Linked DNA regions of Homo sapiens: region 2 is reported to be linked to region 1. The links are microRNA targets in miRTarBase. Many come from high-throughput screens and were not tested one by one. Region 1 holds a microRNA gene; the other region holds the end of a gene's coding sequence.

The links. The annotated mature microRNA hsa-miR-6825-5p reads UGGGGAGGUGUGGAGUCAGCAU and lies in region 1 at 1,210-1,231, opposite strand. An mRNA with a match to its seed (bases 2 to 7 or 8) in the 3' UTR can be bound and repressed. Matches are read on the target gene's strand: a 7mer-m8 pairs with bases 2 to 8, a 7mer-A1 pairs with bases 2 to 7 and ends in A, and an 8mer does both.
Region 2: miRTarBase lists TERB2 as a target of hsa-miR-6825-5p. Seed matches in the 3' UTR shown: 7mer-m8 at 891-897.

Annotation. Positions count from the first base shown.
Region 1 is chr3:127,574,096-127,577,217 of GRCh38, forward strand. MIR6825 (microRNA 6825) reads right to left here and starts at 1,236; the gene lies at 1,171-1,236. It overlaps TPRA1 (transmembrane protein adipocyte associated 1), which reads right to left. Exons shown (of 11, transcript NM_001136053.4): 4 at 2,895-2,981; 5 at 2,726-2,798; 6 at 2,522-2,601; 7 at 1,845-1,955; 8 at 1,654-1,714; 9 at 1,308-1,410; 10 at 1,090-1,170. RefSeq lists enhancers at 782-1,361, 1,362-1,940 and a silencer at 1,215-1,394.
Region 2 is chr15:44,978,082-44,981,152 of GRCh38, forward strand. It overlaps TERB2 (telomere repeat binding bouquet formation protein 2), which reads left to right. Exons shown (of 7, transcript NM_152448.3): 7 at 408-1,148. The coding sequence ends at 547. Among named protein-coding and RNA genes, the nearest start is that of TERB2, 23 kb to the left of the region's middle. RefSeq lists a silencer at 1,997-2,197.

The DNA of each region.
Region 1 (3,122 bases):
CCCAAGCACTCAGGAGACATTGGCTGTGGCCTCCGCCCCCACTCCTGTGACCCCTGCTGCTCATGTTACCACCCACTCCACTCTGACCTCGTCCCTCGGCCCTCAGGGCAACTCTCCAAGGGGGACACACTACACCCAATTTACAAAAAGGAGCCTGAGGCTCAGGGGAGAAATTGTGTGCAAAGATCCAAGCTGGGGCCATGGACCAGTCTGGCCCTCTCCCAGCTTCACCCAGGTGGGAGGCTGATCCCCTCCCCACAAGACCTGGCAGGTGAGAAAGGGGGGACAAAACACCCACATTCCGACCACATTAAGGTCTGGAGTGGGACCCCCAATCCCATGTCTTCAGCATCCCATCTCACAGACGCTTCTGCAGATGCACATGTGCACAGCAGTGTACTCACCCCCAGAGAATCCAACTGACTTCCCACCCCAAACCTGCTCCCCACTTAAGTCTTCCCCCAACAGGGTACAAGCTTTGTGAGGACAGGATTTGCATCCGCTGTGGGCCTCGCATCTTCTGGCTCTAGCAGTGTCTGGCACACAGTAGGTGCTCAATGAATGCTTGCGAATGAATGAGTTAATATATTATTAAATAAAAACCAGCAATGTAGAACACCGTGCATAGTCACTCTCTCTCTCGTGGGGAGAGTATGTCTGTGTGTACTGTACATACAATGTGCATATATATGTATGTATATGTGGATATGTGCATATATCTACATGTATGTATATGTTGAGCACGTGTTCATGTGTGTATGCATGCATGTGGGTGTGCACGTGCATGTTTGTGTGCATATGCCCGTGTGTATCCGTATGTGCGTGTTTGTGTGTGCATGTGCATGTGTGCATGCTTGTGCATCCGTGTGTGCATGTGCACGTGTCCATGCACATGTGGGTGGGTGTGCGTATATCTGTGTGCATGTGCATGTGTATCTGTATGTGTGTGCCCAAGTGCATGTATGTATGTGCGTGCGCATGCGCACTGTATGCATACACAGCCTCTCAGCTTCAATCCTCACACCCATGCTGGAAGAAGGCGCAGTTCCGCCGGCAGCCACGCGGGGGCGCCGGCGGCCACAGACTCACCCGAAGAAGCCCCGGAGGAAAGCCACGTAGATGAGCGGAGCGAAGAAGCTGAAGTACAGGAAGGTTGTGGCATCTACACAGCTGCGGAGAAGGCGGGTCAGCGCGGGGCCTCCTAGCCCCATGCTGACTCCACACCTCCCCATGCCCCCAGCGGGTGGACACCCTGCCGCCCACTTCCCATGCCCCCACGAGGCAGACACCCTGCGGCCCCCACGCACCAGAGCCCCTCGATGATGTCGAAGCACAGCAGCACACTCCCCAGCCCCTGCAGTAGGTTGAGCAGTGCCAGGATGCCCGCATACACGTAGAAGCTCCTCCGAGCTGGGGGCCGGACAGGGTGGGTCGTGAGGTCCCACCCTGGACAGGCCAGGCTCTGCCTCCAGCACCTACTACCCTCAAGCCTGGTGTGTCCCCCGGGGCCCCTCTAGGCCTCCCTCTCACCCAGGGCTCTCCAGCTCCCAGCCTGGAACTCTACAGCTCCAGCTCCCAGCTACCAGCTCTACAGTGGCCCGGTAGACTCCCTCCCATCCCCGCCTGTCCCAGAGCCGCCGGCCAGCTGCTCACAAGGCAGGGAGATGCGCTCCTTCAGCGGGGTCTTGGGAAGGATGACCACCAGAGAGTAGACCTACAGAGACAGGCAGGGCTGAGAAGGTGCTGGGGGCGCCAGCCCAGACCCACAGCCAGAAACCCAGGAATCCAATCCCTACCTGGCCCTAAGGCCCCAGCCACCCCAGCTGCCCCAGCCTGAACCTCACCAGGAAGAAGAAGCAGGAGCTGACCAGCCAGAACTGGCGGCCCCCATGGCCATAGATATTAAAGTCCTCAGCTGAGAGATGGGCATCAGGGTACAGGATCTCCAGGGTCCCCTGCAGGGGCAAGCAGGAAGGGAGGAAGGGAGAGGATCTCAAGGCTTCTCTCTCCCAGGGGCTTTCCCTGATGCAAAGCCCCCTAAGCTCTCCACCACACCAAGTTCAGCCTCTTGGCCTGACCCTCAACTCACCTGCCCCAGTCTGCTCCCTGGCCATGTCCTGCCCAACTGATTGCAGCATCCAGAGCCGGCCCAGTCTTGGGCTGAGTCACATGGGGAAGGGGGCAGAGATGGACAAGGTGCAGTCCCTGCCCCCAATCTAAGAAAGGGGCCTCTAGATGCATGCTTCTCAGGGGGGTCTGCGGACCTGCACCATCCCTACCTGAACTCCTTATTAAAACGGCAAGTCCTGAGCCTCCCATCCTGGCGCCCTGGCCCACTGGATCCAAATCTCCAGGGGACCCCAGAATGTGCCTCGGTAACAAGCACCCCATGTGATTTCTCAGGTGCAAAGTTTTGAGAACTCTGAAGGTGATAAAGACTGGAAACCTGACCCAGACCCAGAAGCAGTGGGTGCCTGGTGCCCTGACTCCTAGCGTCCCCTGCCCACACTCACCCTCTTACCTGGGTGACAGAGTAGGCCAGGGACAGCACTGTGGTGATGGCCAGCACCCGCTTGATGCTGGACTTACTCTCCAGGTGGCCTGGAAGAAACATGCTGGTCAGCAGGCAGGAGCCAGCCCAGGTGACCACTCCAGAGTCAGCCCACAGCCAGGGAGGGGCAGGGGAGAGCATCGCCAGGGCCCAAGAGCCCAGCGGTACACACACCAAAGGCCAGGCCCAGGATGATCACACTCAGCTCGATGGCCAGCAGGAAGAAGCGGGTGATCTCCCACAGGATCTGCACGCAGAGTGGGCACAGCGTCAGCCTGGACCAGCATCCCCAGCCCACCCCAGGCCAGGCCTCCCTGGCCTCCCTCAGAGGGCCCAGCCGCACCTTATCAGCAACAGTTGCAGCGTTCGAGGTGCTCACCGTCATGGATACCACGGCCCGGGCAATGCCCACCAGCGCCACCACAAACACCTGGTGGGCAAGGGAGTGGTGTGGCAGTCAGGGAACAAGAGCCTCTGCATCGGCAGGGGCAGCAAGCCCACCCCCATATCTACAGGAGCCTTTGATTCCTGAGGTCGGAAAGGAGGAAGGCGCAAAGTCAGGGTGGGACAC
Region 2 (3,071 bases), not on the chromosome of region 1:
GCCTGCTGGAACAGGGAAGATGAACTGTTTGCACTGTTAGTAGCTAGTTGGATGGATAGTTCTAAGTGATTACCGTCTAAGCTAGAAACACTTCCCAGTTATTTTTATCTAAGTTCTTTTATGTCCTAGCCCCAACCTAGACATCACAATCTCAATAGTCAAAGCAGCTTTAATCCACCTTTTAATATTTTAAAAGGTGGCAGAAAGTTGTGGGAGGGGAAGAGGAGGTGTTCCCGGATAATTATAAGGTTTCATGGAGAATCTTCTCACTGGTATTATTTCTTCTTTTTACTTCTTTTCTAAAAACATTCTTTAGAAGTCTTAACTCTAATAAATCAAAGACACTGAAAAGCAAATAGTATGAGCGGGTTTTAAGTATATATCTTTTTTTAAATTTTATTTTGTAGGTTATATATCAATTGATGCCATGAAGAAATTCCTTGGGGAGCTACATGACTTCATTCCTGGAACCTCAGGATATTTGGCATATCATGTTCAAAATGAAATTAATATGTCTGCTATAAAAAACAAATTGAAGAGGAAATAGTAAATTAAATTGTAAATACCTTGGCATTTATTTTCTATAAAATATTATACAGATGTGCATATCATAAAATGCTCCCTTTTGGTACTGGGGGATAGTGAAATGGGAAATAATTTTTCTGTTTCTCAAAGTATATCTTTAGGAAATACAGAATCATTTTGGTTCTGTGTTTTGACATTTTTCCCCTAGCTTTTAACAACATGTTCAAATATTCTCAATGCACAGTTGTTAATGAGTAATTGCCGTTAAAATATATTTCATAAGAAGTCTCAATCTCAAACTCTCCATCTCTCAATCCTCCTCCTCCTCCTCTTTCTTGCTTTCTCTTTTCCCTCTCTCTTTCTCTCCTCCCCTTCTCTCTTTCTGTCTTTCAAATGTTCTTTTGGCTTTAACATTCTATTAATTATATTTTTTCTAGATTGAATACTGTGAATGCTAAGTTTTATTAATCTGGTCATCTTATTTTGATTTTAAAAATTAGGATGCTAGTTGCATTCTGAATTACTGTTTCTGGTTTGAAACATGGAGAAAAACATTTTAATAATTCATATTTCATGTTGGATGGTTTCTAATAATAAATATCTCAAAAGTGACTTAACATAAACAGACTATGAGTGTTATGTCTTGTTAGATGAACCTGCAAGTCACCTTAGAATCACAGTTCTAGAATGGAACTTAAAGAACGAGTCCAGTTCACTTATTGTTTTTAATGAGGAAATAAGGACCTTGAGAAGATGTCTTACTTAGGGGGACTAACTGGGGGCCAAAACAGAATTGGAACACAACCATCTTGATTTTCTAGGCAAGTGCTTCCCCACTCTCCCAAATAGCATACGCTGTAGCTTCTGTGCCAGGTACAATACAACTGCAGATCCGCAAAGCAGACCCAGAAACAAGCCAACATGCTTGCCTTTTAATAAGCTGAAATAGTGAGGGAGAAGAAAAGGAAAAATCAGTTAGGCAGACCACTAAGGCTAGTCTTCTGAGAAAGAGCCTGAAAAAATCACAGCTACAGGCATAAATAGAGCAGCCTGGGGAAAAACCAAACTGCACCTGCACTGATAAGAAGGCAAGGCCCAGCATAGAGCCTTTGTTCTTTGTGTGATTAGCAGGCTCTCAGGAAAAAAATTCCTCCCATTTTCAGGCATTTACATGGTGGGCTCTGTGGGAACTTGCACAGGGAGGTGAGGGGCTTGCCTAAAACAGACCCACAGTTACACAAACAAGAGAAGCTGCACTTTGTGCTTACCCAAGATATACAAAGATAAGGAGAGTTACATACACAGCTTCATAGATAAGGGAAGTTACACAAACAGCTACAGAGTTGAGGGGAGTTTCACATAAAAGCTTTTGGATTCAACTGTAAAAACAGCAGCTCACTCGGGTCCGTTCTCCACTGTGGAGAGCTTTCTTTCTTTTGCTTATAAAAGTTTTGCTCCAACCTCACCCTTGTGTCCAGCCTCCTTAATTTTCTTGGTTGTGAAACAATGAGCTCAGATAACACCTCAAACTACAAGACCATTGACCCTAGACAGTTTCATTAGTATTGAGTTGTAGTCATTTCAAGAAGGCAGTTTGTTATCTTTATTCATATGGCCATGCTATATAGAGTCTGATTGGTTTATTACATTTTTGTGTCTTATAAATGACAGTGTTATTTGTGAAGCTATCATCTTAGAACTGTACTTCTTCCAAGCAAGTGAATACCAGCTGTAGAATTATCTAAAGAAAATGCACACTTTTTTTTAGTGCTTGGACCATTTGGGTATATGTGGGCCCTGGCCCTGGCCCTTCTCCCCTGACTCAAATTTCATAAGACAAAATTTTAACACTACTTTTGGCATCAGCATTTGAGAATTATATTTTTCCATATGATAACTTTTCCTTATTTATATTCACATCTGTGGTTAAGCCCTTCAGATCTTGTAAATTACACAAAAAACAGAAAAGACAAAAACCTTAAATGTTAATTATCTTTCCCTGAAACACATTTCTCCTGAATACTTTATCGTAGTTACATACCATTGATTGTTTCTTGTATAGAAACCAAGCCTGTCTGTAAATCTTAAATTAATGACTAAGAGGATTAAGTAAATGTACACCAAGTTGTGTATGTTGGAATTTCTTGAAAGAGAGTATCCAGTATTTTTCTGATATATTATGCATGTGTAAATTAAAAATTATAATGAAACAGTTTTTTAGGTTTGTTTCCCAAAGTGATTATATCTTTAGGTGTATATAATAAAGCAAAATGTAACCTATATCCTTGAAATATTGTCAGGCACAATAAAATCAGTGATAACATAAGCCTTCCAGGAATTAGAAGCATATGAAAAAATAAAATAAGCAAAGTTGAACTAGTTTTAAGTTTATTGTCTTAATGGGAAGTGAAAAGCAATATGATCTTAGTTACTGCTCATGTAACCTTTTTTAAAAAATTGCTTTAATGTAGCTGATGGATATTGCCTCTGAATATCCTTATAAAAAATGTTCTCTGGCCGGGCACGGTGGCTCAGGCCTGTAATCC